2 linked regions of the Homo sapiens genome follow. The protein of the gene in region 2 purifies or fractionates together with the protein of the main gene of each other region. This does not show direct contact. Each region holds a gene or a part of one and is shown on either strand. Other genes may lie near its edges.

Region 1 (3,500 bases), on a different chromosome or scaffold from region 2:
TTTTATAATACATATGAAAAAAACTCCTTTTTAGACTGAACTGATGATGTACAATGATATAATCAGAAAAAAGTTAATGAAATATCTGCTTCTAAAGCACCAATGGTTTTTATATACATAATTGACAAAATGGCTTAAGAAATTTGATTCCTAACTTAGTGTACAGCAGAAAGACAATGGCTCTATTCTACACATACTACTTAGTTTACCTATACATGTATAAAGAAAATAAATTTTAGCCAGGTGGGATGGCTCACACCTATAATTCCAGCACTTTGGGAGGCCGAGGTGGGAGAATTACTTGAGCACAGGAGTTTGAGACCAGCCCTGACAACACAGTGTAACACTGTCTCTACAAATTTTTTTTTAAGTTAGCCAGGTATGGTGGCACATGCCTGTAGTCCCAGGTACTAGGGAGGCTGAGGCAGGAGGGTCACTTGAGGCCAGGAGGTCAAGGCTGGAATGAGCCATGATTGCGCCACTGCACTCCAGCCTGGTCAAGAAAACAAGACCCTATCTCAAAAAAAAGGGGGAAAAAGCTGATGTCCAAGATCCAATAGGGGTTAATACCTGATGACTGCATGTTTAGCTTATTAAAATGTCAGGAATTCTGTGGAAAAAGCTGACTGGTACCTGACCTTTGCCCACCATTTTAGAGCCAATGGACAGGAAGAGGAGGTATGTCTCTGCTGATGTCAAGCTGTAACTGTGCAGAGGAGTTCAGGATGACGATGTGAGATGAAAATCAGTCAGGCCCTGCCATGCCTTCATTCCATGAAGAATCCTGGCTGCAGGAGCACATACTTTTCCTAGAGAAAGTATCCTTACATTTTACCAGCTTTTGGTTTTTAAAATACTGCTTTAAACAGTTAAGTTACTACTCACAGCAACAGTTATAAGTAACAGAATGCTTTACCTTGGCCATCTTGCCATTGTTTCACCAAGTTTTGTGAAAGCAGACCTCTCCTCACATCTGCCACACCACCCCACGCTTGAGGGTGAAGTGTCCTGTCCACTGTGGTCACGAGGAGGTGACACAAAATGCAGCAAGTGCAGTGAGTGTGCGTGTGCATCTCTAAGTCAAGGGGACCAGTAATGGGCCTGTTATTTATAGATTGCTTTAAGATGTCCAAAATACATGTTTTATTAGTGGTATAGTTAATTCTAAAATGAAAAAAAATGTTATATAAGTAACCTAATGTGTTTATTGTAGGAAATACCAAAAACCATAACAACGAAAAAACCAACAACTCTATTCCTTTCTGACCACCACTGTTAATTTTCTGGTATATGCCCTTCTGGTTTTGAAAACAAAAATCAAAATGCTTTTCATCAGATCATCTTCCTGAATGAAGGCATGCATCAAATAGCAGAGTTAGAAACTAAGAGAGTCTCTACCTGATGAAACAGCAAAGTATGAGTGTTTAATCAGGAGTCTATACCATGCCTTCTAATGTTAACGACCCATCAGTCTCCAAATACAATTTACCACAAAATGTGCTAAGTTTGGAATGGTTTTCTGATAGGATCCTGAGATTCCCACATATATTTATCAGCTTACTACTTTTAAAACGTCTATGCAGGCCAGGCACAGTGGCTCACGCCTGTAATCCCCACACTTTGGGAGGCCGAGGCAGGTGGATCACGAGGTCAGGAGTTCGAGACCAGCCTGGCCAATGTGGTGAAACCCCATCTCAACCAAACAAATACAAAAATTAGCCGGCCATGGTGGTGCCCACTTGTAATCCCAGCTACTCGGGAGGCTGATGCAGGAGAAACGCTTGAAATCGGGAGGCAGAGGTTGCAGGAAGCAGAGGGCGTGCCGCTGCACTCCAGCCTGGATGACAGAGTGAGACTTCGCCTTAAAGAAAAAAAAAAAGTATGTGCAACCAGAGGGCCGGGTGCAGTGGCTCACGCCTGTAATCCCAGCACTTTGGGAGGCCAAGGTGGGTGGATTGCTTGAGGTCAGGAGTTGAAGACCAGCCTGACCAACATGGTGAAACCCTGTCTCTACTAAAAATACAAAAATTAGCTGGGTTTGGTGGCAGGCGCCTGCAATCCCAGCTACACGGGAGGCTGACGCAGGAAAATCGCTTGAACCCAGGAGGCAGAGGTTACAGTGAGCCAGGACTGCACCACTGCACTCCAGCCTGGGCAAAAGAGTGAGACTCCATTTCAAAAAAAACCAAAAAACATATGCAACCAGAATATATCAAAAGTAACTTTCTGCCCAGCAAGGTGGCAGAAATCCTGTAATCCTGGCACTTTGGGAGCCTGAGGCAGGAAGATCGCTTCAGCCTGGGAGGCAGAGGTTGCACTGAGCAGAGTTCGCGTCACTGCGCTCCAGCCTGGGCAACAGAGAGACTGTATCTTAAAAAGAAAACGGGAAAAAAAAAAAAAACACACCAACCCAACAACCAAAAACACTCAAGAGATAAAAAGCAAAATTCAGGATTTGTAGGTAGAATAACACAAATTTTAACTGTTGCCAACAACTCAATTTTTTAAGTAAAGCAGGATACATACATTATGACCTTGAGCCAGATTCTGCCTTTGGCCACCAGTTTTCCAGCAAATCCTAGCAAACATCAAAGCCTGCACCCATTCTGCTGCAGCAGCAGGGACACTCAACACCTAAGGCCCTCGTTCATAATTCATACAAAAGGCCCAAGGACAGCCCGCCTCCAGGCAGGTTTGTAGGCCCCCAAGGAGCCCGGAAGGCCAGCCCCTTCAGGACTCAGTGTGCACTCACCTGCCACACCTGCCCATGGGGGTGCCCCTGCAGCTCACAAGGCCTCAAGCAGCAGACCCAGTCTCCTCCAGCAACACACCATGTCTGCAACACCTTCACCCCTTCCCTCTTCATCTCACGTTTAGTAAAAAGGTAAAAGACAAATGTGACAAGCAGGTGCATTTACAACTATGTGAAGGAATATTATGTTTTAAATGTCCCAAGAAACACCCATCAAAGGGGCTGACACGACCACACACGAAGAACTCCCAGTCTTCCATTACAAAGCAAACAACTGACACTTGTCTTCAAGTAGTTAATCCAAAACTTCTCAAAATTACATAATAAAGATAAAACAGGGCCAGGCGCAGTGGCTCATGCCTATAATCCCAACACTTTAAGAGGCTGAGGAGGGAGGATCACTTGAGCCCAGGGGTTTGAGGCTGCAGTGACCTGTGATCACACCACTGCACTCCAGGCTGGGCAACACAGCAAAACACTGTCTGGAACAAACAAAAGAAAAAAAAAGAAAAAGAAAACCCAAATTTATTAAGAATAAAACCATAGGCCGGGCACGGTGGCTCATGCCTATAATCCCAGCACTTTGGGAGGCCGAGGCGGGCAGATCACGAGGTCAGGAGATTGAGACCATCCTGGCTAACACAGTGAAACCCCACCTCTATTAAAAATACAAAAACTAGCCGGGCGTGGTGGCGGGCGCCTGTAGTCCCAGCTACTTGGGAGGCTGAGGCAGGAGAATGGCATGAAC
Region 2 (3,500 bases):
TTAACGTCGGTCAGTTGTGTCTAAATCCCGAAGTATAGAGTGCAGAAAAGCCCAGCATGTCCAATCCATAATGAGGCATGTCTGACCCCTCCCTTTCAGTCATGGCCTAAACTATTTTTTCAGGTTTCTTTGGGGTCCACTTGGCTAAGAGGAGGGTCCGTTCAATCGGTTGGGGGCTTAGAATTATATTTTTGGTACACTTGTTATATCACAGATCCTTTCAGTCTTTTATGGCCATTTGACTTGGTGGGCGGATATGACCCAAGGGGATGGGAATAGGAAGTCAGTCAGCTTTCTTGGCTTATAAGCTACCTTTATGAGTAAATGTGTAAATGAAGGAGTCCTGCTTGGGATCTGTGTTACCTTATTGGGAACATAATTTGGAATTTGAAATTAGGGTTTTTTAAAAACAGAATGTGAATAAGTACTTCTGTTCACATTTTTTCCTGTAGACTTTGCAAAAAGGGATAGCATGGCAAGACAGATGGGTTCCTGCCATCTCTCAATCTTTTTACCTTTGGTATGATGGCAGACTAAGCGAGTATATGGACAGGGCCACTGGATCTGGAAGACAAAGCCCTATGTGGAGAAAGTGATGCCCCTGTGTTGAGGCAGCCTTCTTGTTTCTTTTGCAAGCACAACTGCTGTCCCAGACAGTGACAGCCTATCTTTAGCGAGTGGGATCTGGAGTTACTGTGGTATTTGGAGAGCCAGCCAGTCTGCCACAGTTACCTCAGGCTGCATGAATAATTTCTCTACAAAAAATGGCAGCAGTTTTCCATCATAACTGCAGTTTCTGGTATCTGATGCTGGAATTCATTTCTAAAGCCAGAGTAATATCACATTAAAATGAGCAAATCTCCAGACACTGATTTTTAGCTGCTGGATTTTTTGATTGTACAGTGTTTACTTCTTTTCGCTTCCGGGGGAAGAAAGTGGGCTCATCTCAAAGCCTTAAATAACAGTCATGAAAATTTCACCGTGTGACCACAGTGGCATGATGGATGGCATCCGAGGAACAGAGGGAAGGAAGGAGAGTGTTACTGTGCAGGGAATTTGTTGTCATTTGAAATTAAGGTTGGGACATCTCAGTGAAATCATTAAAACCTAGGAACTAAAATGAAAATAAAGACCTGTACTCAAAACTCTGGCTTAAGGAATTGGGTTGCTTGGAGGCAGAGAGAAAATTAGCCAAAGAGTAAAACTACAGCATTTGAAATATGAAGAGAAAAAGTACAAATTGGATTTTATAAAGAGATCACTAGAAACTTGAAGAGAGAAGAGGATCAGCTTTAGAAGCAAACTATAGGGGAATTGGGAAAGGAAAGTTTAAAATTTGAAATATTTAAACAGGCCATTACAAAGATAAAAGGCTTTTGGGAAGACTTAGGGCCTAGGGCTTCTCTTCATGTGAAGCCTCTCGTATCTCTAGGACACCAATATAGGGCAGAGTCTTACTATGAGACTTTTTCTCCTGAACACCCCTTCACAGTCCCCGGTAAGCTAGATTGGGACATATGAGAACTCCTTTCTCTTAGGCCAATTGCCTCCTTTGTCCATTTCCTCTTTGCTGTTTCATTTGTAGTAAAAAATAGTCTTAAATTTGAATGTTTTAAAATTATAACTAAAAAGTCTTTAAATACAAATCTTAAGACTGTGCTAAGATAGAAATTTGCTAAGCAAATCAATCTATGAGTAAAAAAACAATTGCATCAAGATTCCATATTTAACATTAGCTGTAGCCAATATTATGTGCATAGAAAAATATCAATCCAAATGAAAGAATTGACTTCAAGTTAGAAAATAATATGGATTCACAATCCTTCTCCCTTCTTATTCAAAACCATGCAGGTAATATATGCTTTAAACACTAAAAATGATGAGCATGAATCTGCAATTCAAGCCCTCAAAGATGCTCATGAAGAAGAAATTCAACAAATTCTTGCTGAAACAAGAGAAAAAATATTGCAGTATAAAAGCAAAGTAACAGAGGAGCTAGACCTTAGAAGAAAGATTCAAGTTTTAGAATCATCATTAGAAGATCACATAAAAATGAAGCAGCAGGCTTTGACAGAATTTGAAGCTTATAAGCACAGAGTTGAGGACATGCAACTTTGTGCAGAAGCCCAGCATGTCCAACGCATAGTGACCATGTCTAGAGAAGTCGAAGAGATTAGAAGGAAATTTGAAGAAAAATTACGGAGCTTTGGACAACTTCAAGTACAGTTTGAAAAAGACAAACGATTGGCATTGGAAGACTTGCAAGCTGCTCACAGACGGGAGATACAAGAGCTATTGAAGTCACAGCAGGATCACAGTGCCTCAGTAAATAAAGGCCAGGAAAAGGCAGAGGAACTACACAGAATGGAGGTGGAGTCCCTAAACAAAATGCTTGAGGAGCTAAGACTTGAACGGAAGAAACTAATTGAGGATTATGAAGGCAAGTTGAATAAAGCTCAGTCCTTTTATGAACGTGAGCTTGATACTTTGAAAAGGTCACAGCTTTTTACAGCAGAAAGCCTACAGGCCAGCAAAGAAAAGGAAGCTGATCTTAGAAAAGAATTTCAGGGACAAGAAGCAATTTTACGAAAAACTATAGGAAAATTAAAGACAGAGTTACAGATGGTACAGGATGAAGCTGGAAGTCTTCTTGACAAATGCCAAAAGCTTCAGACGGCACTTGCCATAGCAGAGAACAATGTTCAGGTAAGTAAAGAATATTATATTCAACACATGGATTTTTTTTCTTTTAAAAATATTTGTTTTGTAGGCTGGAGAGCAGTCTGGCCCACTTAGAATCAGTGGCTTCACACCACTTAGACTTTTTTTTTTTTTTTTTTTTAACTTTTCCTGCTTTTCCTTTGTGAGAAAAATCAATGACAGGATAATTTGTATTACCCTGTAGTTGTTATTTCAGACTTTCAGATATTAGGGGCCCAAAAAGACAAGCTTAAAACCTTGTCTAATTATTGGCTAGGCACAGTGGTACACACCTGTAATCCCAGCACTTTGGGGGGCCCAGGCAGGAGGATCGCTTCAGGCCAGGTGTTAGAAACCAGCCTGGGTGAGTGAGCTTAGCGAGGTAATACGCTGTTCCTGGGGGGGGGGGCGGACAATATTGCTAATTATTTACAAAAGGATTTTAATATTGGGCTTAAAGTTTAAATACATTTTTTTCTTTTCCTTTCACTAATAATGGTTTGCCTGCTAGCTGATATTTAGAATTTGATCAAGAAATTGCTTGCTTTCTAAACCTGAATTTAATAGGGGTATTGCACAAGTCTGGGGGAAAAAAATGCCGGAAGTCCACAAGTTTTGTTTTGTTGGCTTAGAAAATTTCATAGCCATGTTTTTAATATCTGTGCAACATTAGAATGGATTAGAAAGTGTGGAATAGCCTTTCCTGATTGGGTCATGTTTATGAAAACATCAAGTTATAAATCACTAATACTTACAGATTTAAAAATTGGTATATAGTTTAGTATGACTTCTGAATAAGA

What was found. The genes of interacting proteins can lie anywhere in the genome.
Region 1: the proteins of FAM184A (region 2) and PCNT purify together in Homo sapiens (affinity purification with mass spectrometry, with the first as the bait; one large-scale study listed by BioGRID). This does not show direct contact.

The regions. Positions count from the first base shown.
Region 1 is NC_000021.9:46,327,156-46,330,655, reverse strand, and holds part of PCNT (pericentrin), read right to left. Parts: intron 1-3,500. UniProt on the Homo sapiens protein: Integral component of the filamentous matrix of the centrosome involved in the initial establishment of organized microtubule arrays in both mitosis and meiosis. Plays a role, together with DISC1, in the microtubule network formation.
Region 2 is NC_000006.12:119,023,165-119,026,664, reverse strand, and holds part of FAM184A (protein FAM184A), read left to right. Parts: intron 1-1,851; coding exon 1,852-2,706; intron 2,707-3,500.